Linked DNA regions of Homo sapiens: region 1 is linked to region 2. The links come from fine-mapping of genetic effects on gene expression. A gene starts in region 2. The other region holds a variant in brackets. All regions are shown on one strand. Distances are between the middles of the regions.

Region 1 (15,353 bases), 36 kb before region 2:
ACCGAGCCTTACTCAGCGTCTGTTCGATGTGTCCTAGGATCAGCAGCAGGCTCGTCAGTCTCAGCTTGCTCAGGATGAGCGTGTGTCCCGCTCTTACCTCGCCCTGGCCACCGAAACCGTGGACATGTTCCACATCCTCACGAAGCAGGTCCAGAAGCCCTTCCTCAGACCGGTGAGTAGAAACCCGGGGCTCTGTTTGGTGGTTTGGACTCCACATTCAGACTCTCTCACTTATAACTTTAGCAGTTGTTGAAGTTCTGGAAATTTTAGGATCACAGTCATCAATAAGTGAAATTCTGTGACTGATTTTGTTCCCAGTTATGCTAATTGATACCAGACTCTGTTGATGGACTGAAGAGCAGATGTCTGATGTCACCACATAGTCTACAGCCACTTCCAAATGCCTTACTGCACTTTGTGCTTAGACAGTACATTGGATTATTCATGTTGATGTCATGACATATTTTTACCATTATTGATTCCTATATTTTACTTATAGAAAAAGCATAAGGTGCCGGGTGCGGTGGCTCACGCCTGTAATCCCAGCACTTTGGGAGCCCAAGGCGGGCAGATCACGAGGTCAGGAGATGGAGACCATCCTGGCTAACACAGTGAAACCCCATCTCTACTAAAAGTACAAAAAATTAGCTGGGCGTGGTGGTGGGCACCTGTAGTCCCAGCTACTCAGGAGGCTGAGGCAGGAGAATGGCGTGAACCCGGGAGGCAGAGCTGGCAGTGAGCCGAGATGGTGCCACTGCACTCCAGCCTGGGCGACAGAGTGAGACTCCATCTCAAAAAAAAAAAAAAAAGAAGAAGAAAAAGCATAAGGTAACAGCTGTTGACAATGGAAGGATATTAAGTAGAATAATTGAGACCGTGTAAAATCTTTGGCTCTCTTAGCTGTACCTTTGTTACACTCAGGAAGCCAAAGGTTAATGGGAGCCGGCCATCACTAGGGTTTATGGTGGATTGCAAATAGTCAGAATGTTTGTTCTCAACTAGTAAGACCTGGTTCCTATTTCTAAAATTGAAACTGAGCAGCATCACTGAAGATTTCTGCCCTGCTTCAGCCACCCCCACCACAAAGTTGAAAAGTTTTATGGTGTGGCCAGGACAAGGGTAGTGAGGAAGGCAAGACGGGGACCTAAGATTCGGTAGCCATTTGCCTATGTGGAGACATGTTTACTTTACAATGGAATATGACGTTACTGCATATTTCCCCTGATTTTCTGTATTTGCTCTTACCTTCGTTATGTGACTCTCTGTTATGTGACTCCTGTCATCAGCAGAGGCACTATTGCCACTCCCTGGCCTGGGGACAACTCTTTTCCACTCTTTTAACTTTCCACCTCATGTCTCTTCATAAACAGATTTCAGTGCAAGAGCCATGGAACACGAAACAAAACAGCTCAGACACTGGCCTCCCTTAAAAGTTTGCAAAGTGCAAGGCCATGGAGCATGAAACAAAACAGCTCACTGGCCAGACACTGGCCTCCCTTCAAGGTTTGCAGAATTCTGTGAAGGCCAGATAGTAAATAGTTGATTAATTCCTTTGTAACAAGGTCAACACCCACCTATTTTGTACACTTGTTGGGAAGACTAAGCGAAAACACACATAGAAGTACCTGGCATAAGGCCAAGCACGGTGGCTCATGCCTGTAATCCCAGCACTTTGAGAGGCCAAGAAGGGTGGATCACCTGAGGTCAGGAGTTCCAGACCAGCCTGGCCAACATGGCGAAACCCCGTCTCTACTAAAAATACAAAAATTAGCCAGGCGTGGTAGTGCATGCCTGTAATCCCAGCTACTTGGGAAGCTGTGGCAGGAGAATCACTTGAACCCAAAAGGCAGAGGTCGCAGTGAGCCGAGATCACGCCACTCCAACCTGGGTAACAGAGCAAGACTCTTCTCAAAAATAAATAAATAAATTTATTTTAAGGCCTGCTCATAGACCTGAGCCATCTGTACACTGTAGCCCTGTTCTTTTGGCCCCAGCCTGTGCCTGTGCCTGCTGTGATGTTTTCATTTCCTTTGCTACACTATTTACTATCTGGCCTTTGCAGACAAAGTGTAAAGGCATTTCATTTTGCAAACCTTTAAGGTTTGCATTTTCACCTTCTTTACTGACTAGCTCAGATCTCTCCTACTTCAAACAGAATGACCAACTCTGTCCTGTTATGACTCTTTTATTTCACAGCTTCTCAACAGTGAAATACAGGAGTACTCTGTGCAAAAGCAAATTCTTGAAAAGCTAAGTATATGTTGAATTTGTATAAATCCAGTTATTACATTTCATGAAAACCTTGTGACTTAAAGGAATGCTTTCGTGACTCCCTTTTATGGCCAGTGTTTAATGCTCTCTAAGCCACATCTTCCTGTTTCAGGTTTGCTTAAAACCATGTATGCCCAACCGTAGTGGGTACTGAGTCACCTTGTGAGATTACAGCATAGATTATTACTATTTTCCAGGTGTTTCATTTAAGTTTACTCTGTCTCATTGACTAGATTTAAAACTATTCAAGGCATAACTTTTATCTTCTTTCCTTGCATTACTTTGTTATTTGTATCTGATAAGTACATAAGAATGACACAGACTGAACTGCCAGGGGCTTTTAACATTTATGGGGAAAAAAGTTTATGAAATACTGGCTGGAAGAGCTGACTCAAAACTTTTTTTGCTCAGATAATGGTAAGATTTGTATAATTTTCTCTCTTTTACTTGTTTCTCAATGAATTTGGAGTGATACTTTTTTTAATTAAAAGCATAAATGTAAAGAAAAGTTTGGCTTCTTTTGGTATTTATAAATAAATATTTCATCAGCCTGCAACATTCCATTAAGTATTAGAATTATCAGATCAGAAATGGGGAGTAAAGTTGAAATATAATGTTGTCTTTCTTCAGCTTATGATACACAGCACCTGTAAGGATTCTTTGAAGATTAATCCAACCAATTCCTGTTCCTCCACTGAAATGGGAGTTTTTGGTCCTTTTCACTTGTCTCAACAGCATGAATTGTCCTATTATCCTGTGATTTCCTAGGAGCTTGGACCCCGATTGGCTGCAATGCTGAACTTTAATCTTCAGCAACTTTGTGGCCCCAAGTGCCGTGACCTGAAAGTTGAAAACCCTGAGAAATACGGCTTTGAACCAAAGAAGCTGTTGGACCAACTGACGGATATTTACTTACAGCTGGACTGTGCTCGGTTCGCGAAAGCCATTGCTGACGACCAGGTCAGTGAGTTGAGTTGGTCTCTCTGTGAGTTTACTGGCAGATTTGGAGATAATAACCACAGTGGCCAGGGAACTCGTCTGGTGTAAATGAAGATGAGTGGGTTGTTTTCCTTTGAGTGTGAAGAGCAGATTTGGGCTGGGCGCGGTGGCTCAGGCCTGTAATCCCAACATTCTGGGAGGCCAAGGCAGGGGGATTGCTTGAGGCCAGACTGCAGTGAGCCGTGATTGCACCACCACACTCCAGAATGGGTGAGAGAGTGAGATCCTGTCTCAAAAACACGGTGGCTCACGCCTGTAATCCCAACACTTTGGGAGGTCGAGGCGGGCAGATCAAGAGGTCAGGAGTTTGAGACCAGCCTGGCTAACATGGTGAAACCCCATCTCTACTAAAGATACAAAAAATTACCTCAGTGTGGTGGTGCATGCCTGTAATCACAGCTACTCGGGAGGCTGAGGCAGGAGAATCGCTTGAACCCAGGAGGCAGAGGTTTCAGTGAGCTGAGATTGTGCCACTGCACTCCAGCCTGGGCAACAGGGTGAGACTCTGTCTCAAAATAAATAAATAAGTAAGTAAGTAAGTAAAAAACAAAAGTAAAGAGCAGGTTTGGCGCTCTGAGCCCTCTCCAGTTGAGTTCTTACCCCATCTTTTTAAGGGCCTTCTTGACAAATCCATTACATTTCTGAAAAGAGCCCGGTTTCTCAAGGGATCAGAATCTTCTTTCCTAGTCTCCTGCTAGAGTGCTGTTATTTTTGGGGTTGTCCAGATTAAAAATCTTGTGTGGTTTTCTTTACATTCTTCCCTCTCCTTTATTCCGTGGGTCTCCTGTGAGCAGATCTGTCTGTGTGTGCTTCATTTCCACAGCCACCGATTTAGGCTAAGCTGTCCCTGCGTGATCTTCTAGTCATCCCATAAAGGGCTGGCCCCCTCCATGGTCCGTTCTGCCTCATTTTCAACGTCCTCACAGCTAATGTTTATTAACTGTACACCTCATTTCACCCACTTTTCGTATCTCCACCCATTTAGTCCTCACAAAATCCTTTGAGGTAGGTTCTGTAAAGTCTTTGTTTTAAAGTGAGGAAAGAGGCACAGAGAGGTTAAATAGCTTGCTCGAGGTCACAGAGTTAGTGTGGGACAGAGGCATGATCCATGTCCAGGCAGCCTGGCCTTGAACCCATATCCTCAGTCTCTCTGCTGTCCACTTAAAATGCCCACAAAGAACCATGCTTGTCTCTGTGTCTCTGTCTTTGTTCACACTACTTATCCAAATACTATTCATGGCTCAAGTTAATCATCAGTAGGCATTCTAGAAGGTTCTTTACCCATATCTCATCCAAAGGAGTAATATTACAATAGAAGCATTGTAGGTACTTTTTTTTAATGACAGCTTTATTGAGCTATAACTCACATATGTAGGTGCTTTCTGATGTAGCAGGGGAAGTGGTCTTAACAAAGGATTTGCAGTGAAAAAATACATAGTCATGTGCTGTTTCTGTCGATGCTGGACCACAAAGACCATGTGGCCCCATCATATTATAATACCGTATTTTCACTGTACCTTTTCTGTGTTTAGAATACTCACCATTGTGTTACAACTGCCGACAGGATTCAGTACAGTCCCACACTGTACAGTTTTGTAGCCTAGGAGCAATAGGCTATACCATAGAGCCTCGACGTGGTGTAGGCCACGCCATCTAGGTTTGTGTAAGTAAATTCTATGATGTTTACACAGCAACGAAATTGCCTAACAAGACATTTCTCAGAGCGACACATGACTGTGTGTCTAAAGCAGTTTTATCATACAAAGTAGTGGCTCGTAAGAGGGTTAGGAAATTTTAGTTACTTGTAGATGTTAAAATATATACTGCTGGCCGAGCGCGGTGGCTCATGCCTGTAATCCCAGCACTTTGGGAGGCCGAGGCGGGTGGATCACAAGGTCAGGAGATCACGACCATCCTGGCTAACACGGTGAAACCCCGTCTCTACTAAAAAAAATACAAAAAAATTAGCCGGGCGTGGTGGCGGGCGCCTGTAGTCCCAGCTACTCGGGAGGCTGAGGCAGGAGAATGGCGTGAACCCAGGAGGCAGAGCTTGCAGTGAGCGGAGATCGAGCCACTGCACTCCAGCCTGGGCGACAGAGCAAGACTGTCTCAAAAAAAAAAAAAAATTATATATATATATACACACACACACACAAACACTGCTTTACTAGCCCCCGACTATATAATACTGCACTGATTTAGAAACAGAAAGCAAGTCATAGCCTGCAGTGAGGGAAAGAAAAGGGAAGCACTTACCCATTGAGGTGGGGTCCACACCTGACTGTAGCTGGCGTCTCCAGCCCAGCCAGAGGTCGGTGTGGAAAGCCCCAGGGCTCTTCCATCGTTGCCGTAGAGAGACTTGGAAGAGCTGTTTAGTGTGCGCCCTCTCCAGGGTGGTTGTGCTGTGGCTGCCACATCACAGGCGCTTAACGTAACACACAGAAGGTTTCGGTGTGGGTGGGCACAGCACGCCCAGTGAGGTGATGCAAAGCAACTGGGTGACAAAGGAATGCTTTGAGCGGCCTTTGTTTGGTGACCAACCACACATTGCATTGCCTGGTCATGCCTTAGATTATGGTGGTGGCCTCTGGTGGCACCTGGCTTGGGTTGTAGACAGCAGTTTCTGGCACAGTGACACACGGGGCTCCTTGAATGTCTAAATAGTCCTGTTCTTCCAGAGTGGTGAAACAAACACACATGTGCCAGTGACACATGGAGAGAAAAGCATATTTTAAGAAGTGTTGGGGCTGGGCGCAGTGGCTGACACCTGTAATCCCAGCACTTTGGGAGGCCAAGGTGGGTGGATCATGAGGTCAGGAGTTCGAGACCAGCCTGGCCAAGATGATGAAACCCCATCTCTACTAAAAATACAAAAATTAGCCGGGCACAGTGGAAGGCGGCTGTAATTCCAGCTACTCGGAGGCTGAGGCAGGAGAATAGCTTGAACCCGGGAGGCAGAGGTTGCAGTGAGCTGAGATCGCACCGCTGCATTCCAGCCTGGGTGACAGAGCAAGACTCCATATCAAAAAAAAAAAAAAGAAGAAGTATTGGGCTGGGTGCGGTGGCTCACACCTGTAATCCCAGCACTTTGGGGAGCCGAGGCGGGCAGATCACCTGAGGTCAGGAGTTTGAGACCAGCCTGGCTAACATGGTGAAACCCTGTTTCTACTAAAAATACAAAAAATTAGCCGGGCATGGTGGTGTGCGCCTGTAATCCCAGCTACTCGGGAGGCTGAGGCAGGAGAATCGCTTGAACCTGGGAGGTGGAGGTTGCAGTGAGCCGAGATCGTGCCATTGCACTCCAGCTTGGGCAACAAGAGCGAAACTCCGTCTCAAAAAAAAAAAAAAAAAAAAGTGTTTTTGCTTCCTTTCACAGTGTGGTGTGTGTGCTGATTGTTGGGTATTTTCTATTTATATTGGCCATAAGCTGATTAGGGGCCTGCTTACTTGATTGTTTTAGAAGAGAGCTTTGGTGGGGCAGGGGGCGGTAAGTGCAGAAGGATGGATGGTTGGCAAGCACTGGGGAAGAGGTTGTAAAATTGCATTTTCTTCTTTGGAAGCAGCAGTATCTTAGTTTGCTTTGGTATGTCTTAGTTTGGTTTGGTATGTCTTGTTTTCCGGGAAAGACAAAGGAAGAGGAAAATGACAGCTTTGCAGGTAAAGAAACTGAGAGGCTTCTCTCCCTCTATACCAAGAGTAGGCTGAAGACCCATGTCCAGAAGGCTGACAGAAAGGTGCCTGGGTGAAGAGCCACTGAGCTTGATGCTCAGGAATCTGAGGGCAGAGCTCCATGCCAGAGAAGTGGGATACCACATTGGTCCTGGGAGCCAAGAGGACCAGGATAGGGAGATGTTAAAGTGGCCTAGACTGTGTCTTTATGGGCAGACGCCAGTTCCATGGACAGACTGCATATCTGTCGTCCATGAAGCATTGTCTGTTAACACCATTTTCCATTAAAAAAGAAAAAAAATTCAGCACCTACTTAGAAAATAAAAAAAAATAGCCGGGTGCAGTGGCTCACGCCTGTAATCCCAGCACTTTGGGAGGCCAAGGCGGGCGGATCACAAGGTCAGGAGATCGAGACCGTCCTGGCTAACACGGTGAAACCCCATCTCTACTAAAAATACAAAAAATTAGCCAGGCGTGGTGGCGGGCGCCCGTAGACCCAGCTACTCGGGAGGCTGAGGCAGGAGAATGGCGTGAACCTGGGAGGTGGAGCTTGCAGTGAGCCGAGATCGCGCCACTGCACTCCAGCCTGGGCGACAGAGCGAGACTCCGTCTCAAATAAATAAATAAATAAATAAATAAAAAAGAAAATAAAAAAAATAAAAATCCCATCAGTCACACTTCCCCCATGCAGTCAGTCTTTCCTAAGTAATTGCTCCCTCCTCTAACCTACCAGAATATGAGTCTGCGTCTCACAAATGTAATGCTTCATTTTCTTGTTATTTTTTTCTTCTTTAATGAGGTAAGATTAATATATAACGTAGAAGTAACCATTTAAAAGTGTACCATTTTGTGGCATGTAGTACAGTCACAGCGTTGCACAGCCACCACCTCTACCTAGTTCCACTACATGTATCACCCCAAAAGGAAAACCCTTAAAGCAGTC[G/A]CTGTCTAGACCCCCTTGCCCCAGCCCCTGGCAACCACAAATCTGCTGTCTCTCTTTTCCTATTTTTGGATTTACCTATTCACCTCTCCGGGATATTTCATATAAACGGACTTATACAGTGTGTAACCTTCTATGTCTGGCTTCCTTCACTTAGCATCATGTTTCAAGGTTCATTTGTGTTGTAGAATGTATCAGTATTTCATTCCTTTTTAAGGCTGAATAATATTTCATTGTATGGATATACCACCATTTGTTTATCCTCATCCATTGATAGACATTTGGGTTGTCTCCAGCCTTTGGCTCTTGCAAATAGTGCTGCTATGAACATTTGTGTAAAAGTATTTAAACACCTGTTTTCAGTTACTTTGGGTCTACACTTGGGAGTGGGATTGTTGGTCATGTGGTAATTCCATGTTTAACTTTTTGAGGGATGCCAGAATGTTTTCTACAGCTGCCGCCCATTTGACATTCCCACTGGCAATGTATAAGGTTTAAGTTTCCATTCTTTTTCATTTTTTTTCTTTGGTTTAGTTTATATTCTTTCCATCATGAAGTTTAAAAATTAAACATGTTAATTTGTTTTTGTTTCTTAAATACTCATCCTAGTGGGAGTGACGTGGTATTTCATTGCGGTTTTGATTTGTATTTCCCTAATGTCAAATACCATTGGACACCTTTTCATGTGCTTGCTGGCCATTTTTATATTTTCTTGGGAGCAATGTCTATTCATGTTCTTTGCCCATTTTTTAATTGGGTTGTTTGTGTTTTTGTTGTTGAGTTGGAAGAGTTCTTTTTTTCTTTTTCTTTTTTTTTTTTTTTTTTTGAGATGGAGTCTCCCTCTGTTGCCCAGGCTGGAGTGCAGTGGTGCGATCTCAGCCTACTGCAACCTCCACCTCCCAGATTCAAGCAATTCTCTTGCCTCAGCCTCCCAAATAGCTGGGACTACAGGCGTGCACCATCACGCCTGGCTAATTTTTTTTGTATTTTTAGTAGAGACGGGGTTTCACCATGTTAGCCAGGATGGTCTCGATCTCCTGACCTCATGATCTGCCTGCCTTGGCCTCCCAAAGTGCTGGGATTACAGGCGTGAGCCACCGCGCCCAACCAGAAGAGTTCTTTATGTATTCTGGATGCTAGGTCATATCAGATGATACATGTATCATTGGATATATGATTTGCAGATATTCTTGTGTTAGTCCATTGCATCACTATACAGAAATACCCAAGGCTAGGTACTTTATGAAGAAAAGAGGTTTAGGCCGAGCACAGTGGCTCACGCCTGTAATCCCACCACTTTGGGAGGCCAAGGTGGGCAGATCACTTGAGGTCAGGAGATCGAGACCAGCCTGGCCAACATGGCAAAACCCTGTCTCTACTAAAAATACAAAAAAATTAGCCAGCCGTGGTGGCGCACACCTGAAATCCCAGCTACTCAGGAGGTGGAGGCTTCAGTGAGCCGAGAGCGTGCCTCTGCACTCCAGCCTGGGTGACAAAGCGAGACTCCGTCTCAAAAATTAAAATTAAAATTAACTGGGCATAGTGGCATGCACCTGTAGTCCCAGCTACTTGGGTGGCTAAGGTGAGAGGATTGCTTGAGCCCAGGAGTTTGAGGCTGCAGTGAGCCATGATTGCACCACTGCACTCCAGCCTGAGTGACAGAATGAGACTCTGTCTCAAAATATATATATATATTTATAGTAAAACATATATGGCAAAAACACTGGCCACTTGTTTTGCGATGGTGATACAAATACAAATATATATCATCACTAAGCAAGTGGCCAGTGTTTTTGCCATATATGTTTTACTATAAATACAAACTACAGCATACTTTACTGTTTGGCATGGCAGTGATTTTTATGAATTAGGCACCTGTGAGGTAGATGTTACTCTGCCCATTTTACACTCAAAGAACCTGGGCTTAGGAGGGTTCAGATTTGCCTACGACTGCACAGCTGGTAGGTGGTAGAGCCAGAATTCAAGTTCAGATTTGTCTGGGTCCACGGTGGGCGCCTGACCTCCACTCCACAACTTCCCTTCCTGGGGACATAAATCGTGTCTGTTCCCAGGCCTATTCATCAGTTCACCAGGGTGGTCTAACGTCCATGGAGCCCCTGACATGTGCTAGTGCTGAACTAAATGAGCTTGAAGAAGCTTGAAAGTGAACAGGAGAAGGCTCCTCTAGAGTATGAACAATAGTGGATTGTTTTTACCATGCTTACCTTTGTGGAAGAGAGCTGAAATTTTCACCTCTTCTTTCTTATAGGCTGCCAGGGCACAGTGCCCCCCAAGGACTGAAATAGACTAGATTTCCTTCTCTTTTTAATGTTTAAACTTTAAAAGAAATGCGTGCTAGCTGTAAAAATTCAAAAAAAAAGCCCGTCTGCCTCAGTCCTGCAGCCCTCTCCAGAGGGAGTGACCTCGTACAGTTTGGCACATATTATTCCAGTCTTTATCCATTTGTAAGCATAAAAAGTGCATACTTTTATGAGGCTATAAATGCATAAAGACGGATATATAAAATATATAAGTGTATATATAATTTTAGGGCTTTTTTAGTGGGGGAAAATCCACAAATGGATAATACTTTGGATATTTTCTGCAGCTCGCTTTTTTCCACCTGACGTACATTTACGTCTCACATTGCCATTCCTCCTTTGCAGAGATCCTACAGTAAGGAATTGTTTGAAGAAGTTATTTCAAAGATGCGGAAGGCAGGGATCAAATCCACAATAGCAATAGAAAAATTTAAGCTGCTCGCCGAGAAAGTGGAGGAGATAGTGGCCAAGAACGCACGCGCAGAAATCGACTACAGCGACGCTCCTGATGAGTTCAGAGGCAAGTGGACTCGTCGTTTTCATGCTGATTTCTTTTGAGTTAACTGGAAATCGATAACATTACAAGAGGACGTCCTGTGCAATTAATTTTTTAATGGTGTGCTAGAGCTGCTTTTTGAGACAATCTGTCTTAAATTACATTTGCCTATTTTTAGCTCATATTGTAAATTGAGAGGAAGAAACATCCTTAGCTTAGCCTGACTTAAAGCCAGATAACAACCCTGAAGATTCTAAGGGCAGGGCTGCCTTTGCAAGTGGGGATTCACATTTTCAAAGAATTCCCAGAAGTCCTAAGACAAAGAATTCCAGCCTGCCGTCCTCGCCACGGAGCCTGTGGGGCCTGCTGCTGGGTCTGTCCCAGGCTTTCTTCTCTGTTCCCTCCCCCCAGCAGTAGCTGACAAAGAAGCGCCTTCCCCTTACAAAAGGCAATGTATATGCCTTTATTGAAGGCTGATTTCCTTCTAAACCTGGGGGCCTCACAGGGGCCCTTTGATTGCTGTTCCTTTGGATAGATTTTTCGCTGGTAGAACGGGCTTTGTTTTCTTTTTCAGTCGTGGGCTCTCAGTAGATTAGAGTTTGCTTTGCTTTGTCCCCGCAGACCCTCTGATGGACACCCTCATGACAGACCCCGTGCGGCTGCCCTCTGGCACCATCATGGACCGCTCCATCATCCTGCGGCACCTGCTCAACTCCCCCACGGACCCCTTCAACCGGCAGACGCTGACAGAGAGCATGCTGGAACCAGGTAGAGGAGGGTGCAGTTTGAGGTGCAGCGCTGGCGTCAGTACCAAGAGATAAAGCCCAAGTCACATATTGGAGATGAAGCAGAAGGGAAATTTATCAAATGCAGAAACTACCTACTTTATGACACTCTGTAGCAAAGACCCAAAACACTCTTGGCCCTTTTTCCCTGCAGACATCCAGTCCCTCCCTCTCATGTCCCAGTCCTTCTGGAGTCTTCGGCTCAATGAGGGAAAGAATGGCCTTTTCTTCCCATTTATACAGAGCGACAAGCATCCTCTCTCAGGAAGAGCCCTCCCATCTGGGGCATTAATCCTCCTTTTTTTCTTTTCTCAGTGCCAGAACTGAAAGAGCAGATTCAGGCGTGGATGAGAGAGAAACAGAACAGCGATCACTAAACCGTTCCGCCGCCCACCCTCTGCTAGACACAGCCAAGGCCAACGAGGCAAGCAGAAGCAGCGGCCGCAGCGAAGCTGCCGTTCATGTGTTGGAGGCCAAATGTGGCAAACCAACCCCAGGCCCACCCAGAGCGAGCAAACGCTGAGACCTGAAAGGACATGGATGAGAAGAGGAGCCCGCTTCCTGTACATATATTTAAGTGACAAACACGGTCAAAAGCTTAAGGGACAGGTTTTATGGTTGCTTGTGTAATAAAGCATGTCCTTCGTATGTCACAGTTTGGGGCAACGGAAGTCTTTTAGTGATGGCTAATGGGTCTGGGCAGCATCCCTTCATGAATTTTTTTTTAATCCAATATCCGTTGATTTGATTGTGATTAGAGAACCTTGGACATTTTGCTGCTAAAGAATCTTTTTTCCCCTCTCCCCCTTCCTGACCCTACTTGCACTGCTGTGGATTTTTTTAAGAGAAGCAAAAACAAAAGTAAACTCCTTTCCCTGGCCCTCCAAACATATATTCTGTGAGATAACTGTGCCTGCTACCAAGTGTTAATCCTGGGATCGTATTTTTATATCATATTCACATATTTGTTTTTTTAATTGGTGTTAGATGACATGATTAATAAAAAAGGCAAGATATTTTCAGAATTTGAATTTCAGTTTTTTTTTTCTTTTGAAATGTCCCTTTAAGATTTTTTTATTCTAAACAAAATAAAGAAAATCCTGCTGCTCTGGTCCTTGTGATAAGCCTCTCTTCGGCATCTGAGGAGCAGCTGCAGCAAAATCTAGGGGTGTAAGTGTATCAGGACTTATGTGACTTATATTTTGGGGAGATGAGGGTTGGGTTTTTTTTTTAATGCTACGTGACAGTTTGAAACCTTCACAGTTATCCTCTGGGGGTAAATCAATTCTTCAACCCTTGGGTGTGTGAGTTTGAGGCAGGGTCATTTGTGTGATGTGTTTGGCCTTACCAAAGCAAAAGAGGGTGCAAGAATGTGGGAGTATGTCTGCCGGTTTCAACACACACAGACAAACACAGCCACACGCGCACACAAGTATAAGACTTTTTGTATTACTGCTCCCTACTTAACATACTTGAATTCTCAAATTTCCTTTGGGGTAAAAAAAAAAAAAGGATTTGAAACCATAAAGTGTTCTGAAGAAATTAAGTCTATAAAAAGCATACTTTCTTTTTTCTTTTCCTTTTTTCCCTCCACAGACAATGTCCTCTGTTCAATTCCTAACGCAAACTACAATAAATGGTGACACACGTTCAGAAGAAATCTTCTTTGAGTCTCTTCTCTTTTGTGGAAAAAAAAAAAGGGCAGGGCGGGTGGGTAAACAAGAGCCAAGTGAGTTTGCATGTGGTGAATGATCTTTCCTGGATCCAATTAGGAGCTGCTATTTTTAAAAGAAAACTTTCTTATTCATGTCAGTCTCGACATTTGGTTCTCATTTCACTGTTTGCTGATTTGAGGGGGTAAGCTTTGTCATATTCAGTCTTCTGCCTTTCTTGAGTTTCTTCTGCTTTATCTCAAGTATCTTCCCTGACCTTCAAGATTCTTCCTCAGGCCGGGCCCGGTGGCTCACGCCTGTAATCCCAGCACTTTGGGAGGCTGAGGCGGATGGATCACCTGACGTCAGGAATTCGAGACCAGCCTGGCCAGCATGGTGAAACCCCATCTCTACTAAAAATACAAAAAATTAGCCGGGCGTAGTGGCAGCGCCTGTAGTCCCAGCTACTCGGGAGGCTGAGACAGGAGAATTGCTTGAACCTGGGAGGTGGAGGTTGCAGTGAGCCGAGATGACGTCATCACACTCCAGCCTGGGTGACAGCGAGACTCCGTCTCAAAAAAGAAAAAATATATATTTATATATATTTACATATATATTTATTTATATATATTTATATATATATATATAACATGGCCAGGTGCGGTGGCTCACGCCTGTAATCCCAGCACTTTGGGAGGCCAAGGCAGGTGTATCGTCTGAGGTCAGGAGTTCTAGACCAGCCTGGCCAACATGGTGAAACCCCATCTCAACTGAAAATACAAAAATTAGCTGGGCGTGGTGGTGGGTGCCTATAATCCCAGCTACTCGGGGGGCCGAGGCAGGAGAATTGCTTGAACCCAGGAGGTGGAGGTTGCAGTGAGCTGAGATCGCGCCATCGCACTCCAGCCTAGGGGACAAGAGTGAGACTTCGTCTCAAAAAATAGATAGATAGATAGACACAATAAATAAGGAAAAAGTTCATGATAGCAAAAATTTTAGGCAATATAAGCAAAAAGAAAAAAAATCCATATTCTCACCATGCAGAAGATTCTGTTTAATTGGGTTTACTTTTTACTAAACTTACATATCTAAGCTTAGTGCCTGTAGAATTAGGATACTGACTGGCATCTTGCCTAATTTTGTTTGTGTGGTTATCTGACCAGTGTGTACTGCTTGTCTCCTCTCCATCCCAGATTCCAAACTCTTATTTTAATCCTCCAGTTGTCCCCGTGAATGTAATAAAATGCTGCTTTATACCGCCATATGCACTTGTCGTTTTGAATAATTCAGAGGTTTCAAGGACCTGCCGGATAGGACAGAGACACAGTCAGTCTCCTGCCTGTACTATCTATAGGGGGAAGATGATTTGGGTTTCCATTTTTAGAGTCTCAAGAGTTGCTGTTTTGTGTTTGTCTGCAGTCTCTTAATTGTGGATATTGAAATAAATCCCAAAATATATTAAAAGTAGGTCTTGGCTAAAAGGAAGATTGTCAAATAAGAGAATCAGATTGGCAGAAGAGAAATGATCCTTGAGAGAAAGATGATTAAAATCTGCCTTGTGTTGTGACTCAGTGTTGTGTAGATTTTAAAAAGATATTGATTGAATATCTTTTGAAAAAAAAGCTGAGCACACCGTTCACTTTTTGTAACCTCTGGGTTTGGTACATCGAGTAGTGAATTTCACAGCAATTTGATTGGAGTGCTAAAGTGACATGAATAGGCCTCATTTGAGTAGGTACTTTTTTTTGTTTTTTGGTTTTTTTCAGACGGAGTCTCGCTCCGTCACCCAGGCTGGAGTGCAGTGGCGCAATTTTGGCTCATTGCAACCTCCACCTTCCAGGTTCAAGTGATTCTCCTGCCTTAGCCTCCCGAGTAGCTGGGACTAGAGCACATGCCACCATGTCCAGCTAATTTTTTTTTTTTTTTTTTTTTTTTTTTAGTAGAGATGGGGTTTCACCATGTTGGCCAGGCTGGTCTTGAACTCCAGACCTCAAGTGATCCACCTGCCTCAGCCTCCCGAAGTGCTGGGATTACAGGCATGAGCCACCACACCAGGCCTCAAGGTACGTTTTTGATTGAAGGAGACACAGTAGCCTATGAGCTTGATGCTGGTGTCAGATAGTGTTGGTGAAGAAAGTCATTCTGAATTGGTGATGATCATTTGCATTTCATGAGCATATTCTATGTGCAAGCCACTCTTACATGTATTAATTTTTTTTT
Region 2 (15,353 bases):
GGGGATCGGTCCCATGCCCTCTGATGTAGCTGCCGACCCAGTCTGCAGAGGATTACTGGTGGCATCACAGCTGGGATGCCTCTGGACAAATATCTTTTTTTTTTTTTTTTGAGATGGAGTTTCTCTATTGTTGCCCAGGCTGGAGTACAATGGCACGATCTCAGCTCACTGCAACCTCTGCCTCCTGAGTTCAAGAGATTCTCTTGCCTCAGCCTCCTGAGAAGCTAGGAGTATAGAACTGTGCCACCACGCCCGGCTAATTTTGTATTTTTAGTAAAGATGGGGTTTCACCATGTTGGTCAGGCTGGTCTCAAACTCTTGACCTCAGGTGAACCACCTGCCTCAGCCTCCCAAAGTGCTGGGGTTACAGGTGTGAGCCACTGAGCCTGACCTATCATTTTTTAAGTTATGAAGTTATTTACTTTTTTACAGGTGGGGTCTTGCTCTGTTGCCTGGGCTGGAGTGCAGTGGCTATTTACAGGTACAATAAAAGTGCACTGTAGCCTAGAGCTCCTGGGCTCAAGAGATCCACCCACCTCAGCCTCCCAGGTAGCTGGGACTACAGGTGCATCCCACCTTGCCCAGAATAAATTACATATGTATTTTTTAAACAGGTAGTAAAGTATAAAAACTAACATGATGGCCTGGTCAGTGGCTCACACCTGTAATCCCAGCACTTTGGGAGGCCAAGGCGGGCAGATTGCAAGGTCAGGAGTTCGAGACCAGTCTGGCCAACATAGTGAAACCCCGTCTCTACTCAAAATACACAAAAAATTAGCTCGACGTGGTAGTGTGAGCCTGTAATCCTAGCTACTCGGGAGGCTGAGGCAGGAGAATCACGTGAACCCGGGACAGGGAGCTTGCAGTGAGCTGAGCTCGTGCCACTGCACTCCAGCCTGGGCAACACAGTGAGACTCTGTCTCAAAAAAAAAAAAAAAACGAACATGATACCCACCCACATACACTGTATTAAACACCGTATTAAATAATGACAATAGGCTGGGCGTAGTGGCTCATGCATGTAATTCCAGCACTTTGGGAGGCCGAGGCCGAGGTGGGTGGATCCCTTGAGGTTAGGAGTTCAAGACCAGCCTGGCCAACATGGCAAAACCCCATCTCTACTACAATTTTTTTTTTTTTGAGACAGAGTTTTGCTCTTGTTGCCTAGGCTGGATTGCAATGGCGCGATCTCAGCTCACTGCAGCATCTGCCTCCCGGGTTCAATCGATTCTCCTGCCTCAGCTTCCCGAGCAGCTGGGATTACAGGCATGTGCCACCATGCCCGACTAAGTTTGTATTTTTAGTAGAGACGAAGTTTCTCCATGTTAGTCAGTCTGGTCTTGAACTCCTGACCTCATGCGATCTGCTTGCCTCAGCCTCCCAAAGTGCTGGGATTACGAGCGCGAGCCACTGTGCCTGGCCATCTCTACTAAAATTACAAAAATTAGCCAGGTGTGGTGGCACATGCCTGTAATCCCAGCTACATTAGGAGGCTGAGGCACGAAAATTGCTTGAACTCAGGAGGCAGAGGTTGCAATGAGCTGAGATCGCATTACTGCACTCAAGCCTGAGCATCAGAGTGAGACTCTTTCCCAACAAAACAAAACAAAAAAGACAATAATAATAATGACAGGGCCAGGCGTGGTGGTTCACGCCTGTAATCCCAGCACTTTGGGAGGCCGAAGCGGGCAGATCACCTCAGGTCAGGAGTTCGAGACCAGCCTGGCCAACACAGTGAAACCCCGTGTCTACTAAAAACACAAAAATTAGCTGGGCATGGCGGTGGGCACCTGTAATCCCAGATACTTGGGAGGCTGAGACAGGAGAATCGCTCCGCTTGAACCTGGGGGGCAGAGGTTGCAGTGAGCCGAGATCGAGTCACTGCACTCCAGCCTGGGTGAGAAGGGGAGACTCTGTCTCTAAATCAATTAATCGGTCAATCAATCAATCAATAATAGACATTTCCAGAGAAGAAAATGGAAGGCGGAAAATCATCAACGGCAGAAATAGCACCTCCGAACTCCAGCCTGGGCGACAGAACGAGACTCCATCTCAAAAAACAAACAAAAAATAATAATAACAATAAGGAGTTCAAGACAAATCAATAAATTCTCTGGTTTTTCCTCCCAACTCAACATTTCCATCTTCCTGTTATTTTGTTTTTCAAGAAATAAAATATTACACATAAAGTTGCAGATCCTCATGTCATCCTCCCTTTTTTTGTTTGTTTGTTTTGTTTTTCTCTCTTTCTTTCCTGGGTTAATCTCATCCTGAATTTGATGATTGTCATTGCCATCCATGTTTTCACACTTGACTATACATAAATTTAGTCCTAAACAGTATAGTGCTCATATTCATACTTCAGACTTTATGTATAAATGCCACTGTCCCGCACCTATTATCCTGCACCTTTTTTTTTTTTTTTTTGAGACAGAGTCTCGCTCTGTCACCCAGGCTGGACTGCAGTGGTGAGATCTCGGCTCACTGCAAGCTCCACCTCCTGGGTTCACGCCATTCTCCTGCCTCAGCCTCCCGAGTAGCTGGGATTACAGGCATGTACCACCACATCTGGCTAATTTTTTGTATTTTTAGTAGAGACTGTGTTTCACCATGTTGGCTAGGCTGGTCTCGAACTCCTTACCTCAAGTGATTCACCCACCTGGGCCTCCCAAAGTGCTGGGATTACAGGTGCATTTATTCTTAAATATTGAATAGCTTTTATTGCTTTTTTTCTTTCTTTCTTTTTTTTTTTGAGACAGGATCTCACTCTGTCATTGAGGCTCGAGTGCTGTGGTGCAATCATAGCTCACTGTAGCCTTGACCTTCCAGGCTCAATTGATCTTCCCACTCAGCCTCCCAAGCAGCTGGGACTACAGGTACATACCACCATGTCTGGCTACTTTTTTTTTTTTTTTTGTATTTTTTGTAGAGATAGGGTCTCGTTATGTTGCCTAGGCTTGTCTCAAACTCCTAGGCTCAAGCGATCAGCCTACTCTGCCTCCCAAAGTACTGGGATTACAGGCGTGGGCCACAGCACCTGGCCGGGAAGACTTGATTTTTTAAAAAGATCCCATTAAAAATAGCAATAAAGGCCAGGCTCAGTGGCTCACACCTGTAGTCCCAGCACTTTGGGAGGCTGAGGTTGATGGATCACTGGAGTCCAGGAGCTGGATACCAGCCGTCTCTACAAAAAATAGAAAAATTAGCTGGGCGTGGTGGTGTGTGCCTATAGTGCCACCTACTCAGGAGGCTGAGGTGGGAGGATGGATTAAACCAGGGGGCAAGGGTTGAGGCTGTAGTAAGCTGTGATCACACCACTGCACTCCAGCCTGGGTGACAGAGTGAGACCCTGTCTAAAATAATAGTAATAATAAAGTCTTCCTATCAAAAAGGAACACTTCGGATTTTTGTGTATTGATTTTGTATCCAGAAACCTGATTGTGATTGTGATTGTGATGGGAGAGTGGCAGTGCACCACGTGACTAGGACTTCTGATGTTCTCGTATCCTTGCATTCCAGAGACAGCCCTACCAGATCATGGCTACATTCAATTTTCTAGTAATTTATTTATCATTTTAAAGAGATGCTTTTATACAGAATTTGTAATCTGAGAAACTGGCTGGGCAGTGTGACTTCATCTGTCAGAGAGGCAAAAGGCTTATGCAGAGTGGGCTGTTTGGCCTTGGATCCTGGAGCAGCCTTCTTTGCCTTTATTGACCCTTCTGTGCCTTCTGTGTGCCCTTTGGCTAGCTTCTTCTCCTGCCAATCACAATCACACCCTCTTCACTACGTTTTTGTTTTAAATTTTATTTTATTTTTTGTTGAGACAGAGTCTCACTCTATCTCCCAGGCTGGAGTTCAGTGGTAGGATCTCAGCTCACTGCAACTGCCGCCTCGTCCACCTCCCGGGTTCAAGTGATTCTCCTGCCTCAGGTTCCCAAGTAGCTGGTATTACAGGCGTGCCCACCACGCCTGGCTAATTTTTGTATTTTTTAGTAGAGATGGGGTTTTGCCATGTTGGTCAGGCTGGTCTCGAACTCCTGACCTCAAGTGATCCACCCGCCTCAGCCTCCCAAAGTGTTGGGATTACTGTCGTGAGCCACCGCGCCTGGTTCTTCACTACGTTTTAGATTCTTTTTAGATTGTGCTCCATTGAGAGCTCAAGCAATACAGCCACCCAGGTTTTCGTAACTCTCCATGGCGCTCACCACAGTATTTACGCAAGGAGGTCCACGCTATGATGAAGTGGTGTCTACTGTTGAATTGATGAGTTCCTCTTTATTAACCTACTATAGTTTCATTTTACTCTTAGCCGTCAGGAAGCTAAGAGCTGAGTTCTGTGCTCAGTGGCAACATATTTCCTTGACTATGGATTTTTAAAATATTGTTTTTCTGGCCGGGCGCGGTGGCTCATTCCTGTAATCCCAGCACTTTGAGAGGCTGAGACAGGTGGATCACCTGAGGTCAGGAGTTCAAGACCAACCTGACCAACATAGTGAAACACCGTCTCTACTAAAAATACAAAAATTAGCCGGGCGTGGTGGCAGGCACCTGTAATCCCAGCTACTCGGGAGGCTGAGGCAGGAGAATCGCTTGAACCTGGGAGGCGGAGGTTGCAGAGATTTGACATCGTGCCACTGAGCTCAGCCTGGGCGAGAGTAAAACTCTGTCTCAAAACAAAACAAAAAAATTTTTCTTTCTAGGCATGCCTCTCATTCAAACAGCTTTTAAAAAGTCTCTTGCTTGTTTCATTATTATGAATTTTACGCCTATTTTAAAGCTATACGGTTTCACTGCTGTATGCTTTAGTGTAAGCTATGTCAAATCCTTTTGCAGGTAGGTGGAGCTTAAATTCTATAAAATGAGACGTGATCAATAAAAGCGGATGAAGAGTCTGAGGACTTGAGTGGTGGTGGAGATTTTCCAGAATTATTAGTGTAGAAAATTAATTTCGATGTTTTAGTGCATATGCTTGTACATAATACCTTTTACTCACAATAATACTGTATTTAATTCAGGGGAAGACATGTGATTTTACTTTCAATGTCTGCTAGTAAATAAAAATAATTCACAACCTTATAAAGTAATAGTGCTCGGCCTGGGCCTGATAATTGAATATATTATCACTGAAGATTATATTTTGTTAAGTACTGAATTGAACAGTTTCTGAACAGTGAGATTTTTCTTTCCAGCTGAATCTAAATCTGATTTTAAAGAAATCACTGCTCGTGCTTTTGTGTCCTCCGGGTTTCTAACTTCCACTCTCCCTCCTTCAAGGGCATCTCCCAGAAGGGGGCTGGGCTCGTTAACTCAGGGACGGTGCAAAGCGTTTGTTCCTCTCCTCACAGCCCTTCCGCGGTCTCCCAAGGAGACAAGTGGAATGCCCACCAAGTCATGCTTTTCCATTACTCATTCCGCCTTCTCTCCCGAGGTGGCGCGTGGGAGGTGTTTTGCTCGGGTTCTGTAAGAATAGGCCAGGCAGCTTCCCGCGGGATGCGCTCATCCCCTCTCGGGGTTCCGCTCCCACCGCGCCGCGTTCGGCCGGTTCCGCCTGCGAGATGTTTTCCGACGGACAATGATTCCACTCTCGGCGCCTCCCATGTTGATCCCAGCTCCTCTGCGGGCGTCAGGACCCCTGGGCCCCGCCCCGCTCCACTCAGTCAATCTTTTGTCCCCGTATAAGGCGGATTATCGGGGTGGCTGGGGGCGGCTGATTCCGACGAATGCCCTTGGGGGTCACCCGGGAGGGAACTCCGGGCTCCGGCTTTGGCCAGCCCGCACCCCTGGTTGAGCCGGCCCGAGGGCCACCAGGGGGCGCTCGATGTTCCTGCAGCCCCCCGCAGCAGCCCCACTCCCCGGCTCACCCTACGATTGGCTGGCCGCCCCGAGCTCTGTGCTGTGATTGGTCACAGCCCGTGTCCGTCGCGGGCGCCGGGGCGGATACGAGGTGACGCGCAGAGGCCCAGCTCGGGGCGGTGTCCCGCGCCGGCGACTGCGGGCGGAGTTTCGCGAGGGCCGAAGCGGGGCAGTGTGACGGCAGCGGTCCTGGGAGGCGCCCGCGCGCGTCGGAGCAGCTCCCCGTCCTCCGCAGCCGTCACCGCCGGCCGTCGCCGCGCCCTGGCCTCCCGCACTCGCGCACTCCTGTCCGCCGCCCACCGCCCACCTCCCACCTCGATGCGGTGCCGGGCTGCTGCGTGATGGGGCTGCGGAGCGGCGCCCTGCGGCTCGCGGCGGCCGCTGCTCGCGCTGAGGTGCGTCGGTGCCCGGCCCCCCGCGCCCCCGCGCGCCGCGGCTCCTGTTGACCCGGTCCGCCCGTCGGTCTGCAGCGCGGCTGAGGTAAGGCGGCGGGGCTGGCCGCGGTTGGCGCCGCGGTCGCGGGGTTGGGGAGGGGGCCGCTTCCGCGGGGAGGAGCGGCCGGGCCGGGGTCCGGGCGGGGTCTGAGGGGAGGTAGCGCGGGACGGGCGCCGGGTGCGGGAGCCTCGCCCTCGGGGGAGGGGACCCCTCCCTAGGCCAGCAGCGAGTCCCGGGCCGGCGTCCAGCGGTCGGCTGGGGCCCCCGCAGTGCCCTGCACCGGCCCTCCGTTTCCCCCGCGCTGCCAGGCCCCGGCTGTGCCCAGCGCTCTCCAGACCCGCCGCTGCCTGGCCGTTCCCTGGGCTCCGCGCACGTTGCAGCCCGGGGGGCGGCTGTGCTTCGTTTGAAGCCATCGTTTCTCATTTTCCCTCTCCCCTTTCCTCCTTTGTGGTGGGCATCGGGCTTCGGCTGGGAATGTGGTTATGCCCTTTGCCAGATGGCGATAGGAAAGGTCATCGCTTGGCGCTGGGGGAGCCGAGGGCTCGAGGCCTGGAAAGAGGGGTGCGATAGGAAGGGAGGGGGCTTGTTGGATGCTGGCCAGGTGTGAGGAAGGCTGGTGTGGTCTCGGCATTCAGCCGACTGGGATTACTCGGGCAGCCATATTGGGAGGATGATCTGACAAATCCTTTAGGAGCCAAGTCCAGTTGTTGGAAGGCACCGAGTGACAGCCCTGGCAGCTTTCAGGGTGACTGGCCAGACCAGAAGCCAAGTTGTGGGGGTTGGGAGGCTGCTTGAGCAAGCTAGTCATTGTTCATGCAACACAAAACATTCCCGCCCCTAACGCCAGAATGGAGCTTCCAGATCCCTTTTTTTTTTTTTCCTTGATTGCTAAATGAGCTTCCAAGGTAAACTGCCTTCAAGATTCCATTCTTGTTGGGGTGAAATTCCGTGTTTCTCTATTCATCTTCTGCGTCCAGTGCGGGGGCTGTGAAAGGCCTGCTGATGCTTTACATGTGCATAGGCCGATCTGAGAATTGCTAAGGCCACTGTATCAGTATGGAGGCCTCGAGTAGCCGTAGAGCATTGGATGGATAGATTTTCAGAGTCGCTCGACTTGCAGAGAAGAAGTAAACCAGAGTATTCTGATAGTGGGCGAGGCTAGTGGCGGCATTTCTGAGGACGCAGGCTGTCATCTTTGTGGAATCTCGAGGTAGCTGAAATTAGATTGTCAACAGATCCCTTGCTCATATCTCTTACTGCTCTGAGCAGCTGTTCTGCCACCATTGAACATTCCGCTTTGTGTCATGATGTGCCTGTCTGAGCCTGATGAAAGTGTGCTGATGAGATTTGAATAACTCTTAAGAGGTGATATCATGGTGGATATTTTATTTAAAGGCTGGCATTTTGTCTCCTTAGTTTAGTCATAACAAAATCTAGTTCTTGTGTTCCTCTAAGAAGTGAGGTGGTGCTTTCTGATTAAGTTGATATGGTTGCTGGATTATAGAGCAAGTGTTGTTAATGTATTGTTTGAAGGTGGAATATGAGAATTACACATAGGTTGGTATTGTAAAGCAGGTCTGGAGATGATCAATAACTGGGTTCAGCATGAGTCTGTAGATCTGTTCTTTTCTATATCCTAGATGTGGACAGGACCTGGAGAGATGGCATGCCTGCTTTCTTCTTTGTGGCCTTTGCTTTCATTCAAGTTCAATTTGTTCATAAATACATTCTCATAACTTCTCAGGTTGAACTATGTAAAAAATTTTGGGATGGGTGTGGTGGCTCATGCCTTGTAATCCCAACACTTTGGGAGGCTGAGACAGGAGGATCCCTTGAGCTCAGGAGTTCGAGACCACCCTGGGCAACAGAGTGGGACTCTGTCTCTACAAAAATAAATGAATAAATAAATACCTGGGCATGGTGGCTCATGCCTGTATTCCCAGCTATTTGGGAGACTGAGGTGGGAGGATTGCTTGAGGCTAGCCTGGGCAACAGCAAGACCCTGGCTAAAAAAAAAAATGTGTATATATATATGTGTGTGTGTGCATGCGTGTGTGTATATATATATATATATATATATATATATATATATATATATACACACACACATTTAAAAAATTTGGATAGCTTTTGCTAAGCAAGGTCTTAACACTATTTTTTTGTTATTTTTGTCATCAAGCTTTAGTTTTAAAACTTGTTGAATCAAATGTAACTTCAACAGAAACTAGTGTTTTTTGCATTACACTAGTATGAGAGAAATACAGAATGTCTGTTTTGAAATTCCATGCCCTAAGTTAGAAGTATTTCTAAGTTTTTAATTTTTAGAGTTACTTTATTAGTATAAAGATCTGAATATTTTTGATTAAAAATAATTTCAGCATTTGGTAAAATCAGACCTGATTGTGAATCTGATACAGAGGCTAGGTTTTATGAGTATGTGTAGCTCTGCTCTGATGAGTGTTTTTCCAAAATTTATCCAATTAAGTATAGCTTTTAAGGCTTAGAACAGACTGTTTTTCCTTTTCAAGACCAGATATGAATGCACTTTTCCTTTTTTCTCTCTTTCTTCTTTCCCATTTTGATTTCGTGCAGGGAATAAGTGTCCAAGAAAGTCTGCCAACGGAGTCTTTCTTAAGGCCAAAGCTTTTTAGCCCATTTTCTCACTGTGGTCTTGTCCTGGGTACAAAGTAAAGGACAATGGGCCCCCTGCCTTCCTGTTTGTAATCCCCTTCCCAGGCTGCTAATCATAGTAGATCTTTTCCAGGAGGAAGCATATCCTTTTGGTCTTGTAAACTAACATGATATAATTTCATAATGCTCTGAAGTTATTTTATGTCTATTTCATGTATTTCTCTTTGAAAGATGGCCTCGTTTGAACAGGTACTGGTGAATATCTGGATTCTGTGAAACAGTGTGAATAAATATGCATACTTCTTGAACTTTTTTTGTGCAGCTTGTCAGGATAGAAGAGAAATTAAACAGATGTGACTGTGGTAGGAAAAACCTGCAAAAGGTGCCTTGGGCCGGATGCAGTGGCTCACATCTGTAATCCCAGTGCTTTGGGAGGCTGAGGCGGGAGGATTGCTTCACATCAAGAGTTTGAGACAAGCTTGGACAACATAGCAGGACCCCCATCTCTACCAAAAAAAAAAAAATCTGGATGTGGGTGGTGTGTGTTTGTAGTCCTAGTGCTTCGGAGGCTGAGTGGGGAGGATGGCTTGAGTTTGAGATTACAGTGAGCTAAGACAGCGCCATTGCACTCCACTCTGGGCTCAGACTTTGCCTGCTAAAAATAAAAAGATGCCTTGGACTTCTCAGAGTTGAACTGTTTGGTTAACGGGCCACTGATTCATTGATGCTCTTTTACTATAGGCATTACCCATTAACTGAGGGTGCATGTAGAGATTTAGTTCTTTACCTTCCAGGAACTCACACTTTACCACTTCTTTCTTTCTTTCTTTCTTTTTTTTTTTTAAGACAGAGTCTCGCCCTGTCACCCAGGCTGGAGTGCATTGGTGTGATCTCAGCTCACTGCAACCTCCGCCTCCCGGGTTCAAATGATTCTCCTGCCTCAGCCTCCCAAGTAGCTGGGATTACAGGCACCTGCCACCATGCCCAGCTAATTTTTGTATTTTTAGTAGAGATGGGGTTTCACCATGTTGGCCAGGCAGGTCTCGAACTCCTGACCTTCTGATCCGCCTGCCTTGGCCTCCCAAAGTGCTGGGATTACAGGCATGAGCCACCGTGCCCTGCCCTTTTTTTTTTTTGGGATGGAGTCTTACTCTGTCACTCAGGCTGGAGTGTAGTGGTGTGATCTTGGCTCACTGCAACCTCCACCTCCTGGGTTCAAGTGATTCTCCTGCCTCAGCCTCCCGAGCAGCTGGGACTACAGGTGCACACCACCATGCCCAGCTAATTTTTGTATTTTTAGTAGAGACGGGGTTTCACCGTATTGGCCAGGCTGATCTCGAACTCCTGACCTTGTGATCCACCCACCTCAGCCTCCCAAAGTGTTGGGATTACAGGCATGAGCTACTGCACCTGGGCTACCATTTCTATATAGAAATGGTGAGATAAAGTTAACTCCAACTCCTTTTCATTTTAGTACAATTTAGTATCCTGATATGGTTTCCGTGATTTCCAGTCAGAGCATTTTCAAAATTCTTTGTAATGTTGTATGTACATAATACTGTACTTATTATCTAATACTCAATTGGTACTTTTACATTTGTCTTGTGGTTTTTTGTATAGTGTTTGAAGTCACAAGCTTGTAAATGTTTGATGGATTTAAAAATTTATATATTTTATATATATATATATATATATATATATATATATATTTTTTTTTTTTTTTTTTTTTGAGACGGAGTTTCACTCTTGTTGCCCAGGCTGGAGTGCAACGGCGCGATCTCGGCTCACCGTAACCTCCACCTCCCAGGTTCAAGCGGTTCTCCTGCCTCAGCCTCCCTAGTAGCTGGGATTACAGGCCTGTGCCACCACGCCCAGCTAATTTTGTATTTTTAGTAAAGTAGGGGTTTCTCCATGTTGGTCAGGCTGGTCTCGAACTCCCGACCTCAGGTGATCCACCCACCTTGGCCTCCCAAAGTGCTGGGATTACAGGCATGAGCCACTGTGCCCGGCCTATTTTTTGTATTTAATATCACATTGTTTATACCAAAGCATATCATTCAACCATACTACCCTCTACCATTGCCCGTTTTTTTCCCCTTGAGACAGGCTCTTACTCTATTGCCCAGGCTGGAGTGCAGTGGCGCAGTCATGGCTCACTGCAGCCTTGACCTCCTGGGCTCAAGTGGTCCTCCTATCTCAGTCTCCTGAGTAGCTGGGATCACAGGCATGCGCTACCATGCCCAGCTAATTTTTAAATTTTTGTAGAGATGGAGGTCTCACTATATTGCCTATTGCCCAGCCTGGTCTTGAACTCCTGAGCTCAAGTGATCCACCTCAGTCTTCCAAAGTGGGAGGATTAAAGGCATGAGCCCCTGTGCCCAGCCCCATTGCTCTTTTGGATTACTATATTGTTGGCTTAGTTCTCTCTTTCATCCAGATTTTTGACATCATCTTGGCAGATGTCAATGACTATGTAAATAAACAATAACAGAAACAACAATAGTGATAAAATAGCTTATTCATATTGAGCACTTTCTGTGTGCCAGGCTTTTTTCTAAGCACTTTACGTTTATTAACTAATTTAACCCTAATAGCAGCCATATGAAATAAATACTGTTATTCCCATTTTACAGATGAAACTAAAACAGGCCAAGTGACTTCCCCAAAATCATAAGTACTAGTAAGTAACCACTATGCTGAGTTTCCTTTGTAACTACCGTTAACTGTGAAATTTCTTGAATTGAGCTCAAGCAAACATTGGCTTCATTCTGTTCCAGTTGTTTAGTGTTATGGCCACATTTTTAACTTGTCATCATGTTAAGGTCTCAAATTCACCTTCAAGTCTTAAACTGTGATAATTGATAGCTTTCACTTTCATAATCACTTTATGTGTGTTCTCCCACTCTAAGTCTCCTAAACCGTCGGCCTCTTCCAGATTTTACTTCTTTTCCTTCCTTTTCTATACTACGACCTCTGGGTTGCATTGCTTGCAGTTTTTATTCTTTCTTATTATTCTTCAGGACTTACTATGCAGAAGCCAGCCTCACATCATCCCTACCATCCATACCCTCCATTCTTACTCCGTGTCATGGAGAAACCTGCATAGTGCTGGGGATTAGTGCCACAATTAATGTGTAGTCCGAGGTCTCCCTTAAATCTGTCTTTGGTCCCTGTCGGAGCAGTTCTGCTTAGCTCCCTCCCCATTTCTCCACAGTTGCTATTATAAAATCTGGACCCCTTGACTCAAACCTGTCACTGCCCCATGCTTGGCAGAATACCTTGCCTGCCACCTCATAGGAAAAAAGGGCATGAACTCCCTGAGCTTTCCCTTCCTCTACTTACAAACTTCTCTGCCCTCTTTCTTCTGTTCTTTCCCCCAGTGTGAGAAAGAGGTTACTCTGTCTTGGCCTCTGTTAGGGATAGCACTGTTCTAATCTGTAGGAACTCGCAGTATTGGTTACTCTTCTTTTCCCTGCAGTACTTGCCCATTTTCTTTTTTTTTTTTTTTTTTTTTTTTTTTTTTTTTTGAGACAGAGTCTTGTTCTGTCACCAAGACTGGAGTGCAGTGGCCTGATCTTGGCTCACTACAACCTCTGCCTCCCGGATTCAAGTGATTCTCCTGCCTCAGCCTCCCAAGTAGCTGGGATTACAAACGTGTGCCACCACGCCCAGCTAATTTTTGTATTTTTAGTAGAGATGGGGTTTCACCGTGTTGGCCAGGCTGGTCTCAAACTCCTGACCTCAGGTGATCCGCCCGCCTCTGCCTTCCAAAATGTTGGGATTACGGGCGTGACCCATTGTGCCCAGCCTTTTCTACTGTTCTTGAACACACCAGGCATAGTCCTACCATAGGGCACTTGCTCTTACTCTTTCTTTTTCTTTTTTTTTTTTTTTTGAGACAGCCTTGCTGTGTCTCCCAGGCTGGGGTGCAGAGGCACAATCTCCTGGGTTCAAGCAATTCTCCTGCCTCGGCCACCTGAGCAGCTGGGATTATAGGCACCCACCACCAAGCCCAGCTAATTTTGTATTTTTAGTAGAGACGGTGTTTCACCATGTTGGCCAGGCTGGTCTTGAACTTCTGGCCTCAGGTGATCCACCTGCCTCAGCCTCCCAGAGTGCTGAGGTTACAGGCGTGAGCCACCGCACCCAGCTGCTCTTACTCTTTCTTCTGCCTGGAATACTTTTCCCCTGAAATCTGCTTGGCTAACTCCTTTACCTCTTTCAAGTCTTTGCTTAAATCTCAGCACATCAGCAGGCCCACCCTGACCTCATTTATGCACCTGCACAGCAATCCTTCCCACCACCACAATCTTGAACCCCCTGACTTTGCTGTACTCCCCCGTGATGCTGATTACATTCTCGATTCTCTATACCTGATTTATTAATTTTAATGTCCTCCCTCTCCCTACTAGAATGTAAATTCCTCCATGACAAGGAGGTTTGTTTATCTTTTTTGTTCACGGATTATTTTTCCCAGGAACTGCCTGTTGCATTGTAGGCACCCAGTAAATAGCTATTGAATAAAGTATAGAAATGTGCAAGTCTTTCCTATTACAAATAAAGGGCTGGGGGGAGGAAAATCCCTCCTTCGTTTCTGTTCCTTCCAATAAAATCCTTCATTCCTATTTGCTCTCTCCTGCTCATCATAGCCAGGCTCTGACAGTGTCATGGATACTGGCATTTCCCACTTCCGTGCCAACCCACTACAGGCTGGCTTCAGTGTCCCCTCCTGCCCCCCACTTCATGGATACTGCCCTTGCTGTGGTTTCCAGCCTTTATTGCTGAAACCAGGAGGCACACTTCACACTTTTGCAGTACTAAGTATGTTACTCATTTTGTTTTTTTCTTCCTTGAACTTTTGGCTACTTCTGTTTGTGGGCTGGTTTCAGTCTTCTGAAACTGCTGTTTTTCTGGCTACTCACATGGCTATTAAATTCATTCAACATAAATCTTTGTGCAACTTTTTTTTTTTTTGAGACAGAGTCTCGCTCTGTCATCCAGGCTAGAGTGCAGTGGTGTGACCTTGGCTCACTGCAACCTTCATCTCCCGGGTTCAAGTGATTCTCCTGCCTCAGCCTCCCGAGTAGCTGGGATTACAGTCATGTGCCATCACACCCAGCTAATTTTTGTATTTTTAGTAGAGACAGCGTTTCATCATGTTGGCCAGGCTGGTCTTGAACTCCTGACCTCAAGTGATCCACCCGCCTTGGCCTCCCAAAGTGTTGGGATTATACGCGTGAGCCACGATGCCCAGCCGATCTTTATGTAACTTTTAAAAGCTTGCTGTGTCGTTTGGTTTTATTTGTTTTTAGGAACTAGAACTTTGACTACACAACATATTTACAGTGTTAAATAGCAGAATAGGCTATTACAGGAAGTTTTTATTTATTTATAATTTATACCAGTTACTACTTCTAGAAAGGATTTGAGCAGCTTACCACAAATATATACAGTGAAGCTATTAAAATATAAATAAGTAAAAATTTATGTAACAAGAAAAACTAAATGTATAGGTTGCCTCGGCTAATGTGGTTATTGTAATTTAATTTGGAAACATGGAATTTAATGCAAAAAGGGAAAGATAAATTGTACAATTTTCACTCTGGTAAAAGAAAGCCTAATAGTTTGTCGAGAGAAACCTTTTTTCCTAGTATTAAATTCTAAAGATGTTCTAAGAGAAAATTGTTATAAACATCCTGATATAAAGATACGTACGGCCGGGCGCGGTGGCTCATGCCTGTAATCCCAGCACTTTGGGAGGCCGAGGCTGGTGCATCACTGAGGTTGGGAGTTTGAGACCAGCCTAACCAACATGGAGAAACCCCATCTCTACTAAAAATACAAATTTAGCCGGGCATGGTGGTGCATGCCTGTAATCCCAGCTACTTGGGAGACTGAGGCAAGAGAATCACTTGAACCTGGGAGGCGGAGGTTGCAGTGAGCCGAGATCATGCCATTGCACTCCAGCTTGGGCAACAAGAGCAAAACTCCATCTTAAAAGTAAAAAATAGGCCAGGCCTTATGGCTCACGCCTGTAATCCCAGCACTTCGGGAGGCCGAGGCAGGCGGATCACCTGAGGTCGGGAGTTTGAGACTAGCCTGACCAACATGGAGAACCCCATCTCTACTAAAAATACAAAAAAATCAGCTGAGTGTGGTGGTGCATGCCTGTAATCCCAGCTACTCGGGAGGCTGAGGCAGGAGAATCACTTGAACTCAGGAGGCAGAGGTTGTTGTAAGCTGAGATCGTGCCATTGCACTCCAGCCTGGGCAACAAGAGTGAAACTCACCTCAAAAAAATAAAAAATAAAGACTTACTAGGGCTGGGGACAGTGGCTCACACCTGTAATCCCAGCACTTTGGGAGGCCTAGGTGAGAGGATTGCTTGCGCCCAATAGTTCGGTATCAGCCTGGGCAGTGAAGCAGGATCT

Evidence for each region. PIP is the estimated chance that this variant, and not a neighbour inherited with it, causes the effect.
Region 1: its variant is fine-mapped to the expression of KIF1B in monocytes after interferon gamma (Fairfax 2014, PIP 0.91).

What each region holds. Positions count from the first base shown.
Region 1 is chr1:10,168,099-10,183,451 of GRCh38, forward strand. It overlaps UBE4B (ubiquitination factor E4B), which reads left to right. Exons shown (of 28, transcript NM_001105562.3): 24 at 38-172; 25 at 3,040-3,231; 26 at 10,546-10,720; 27 at 11,318-11,464; 28 at 11,797-13,141. The coding sequence ends at 11,858. Among named protein-coding and RNA genes, the nearest start is that of KIF1B, 35 kb to the right of the region's middle. RefSeq lists enhancers at 2,446-2,495, 5,406-5,485. The variant G/A (reference allele first, on the strand shown) is at 7,883.
Region 2 is chr1:10,204,543-10,219,895 of GRCh38, forward strand. KIF1B (kinesin family member 1B) reads left to right here and starts at 6,028. Exons shown (of 49, transcript NM_001365951.3): 1 at 6,028-6,336. RefSeq lists silencers at 5,249-5,543, 5,630-5,709, 5,740-6,259 and an enhancer at 7,161-7,816.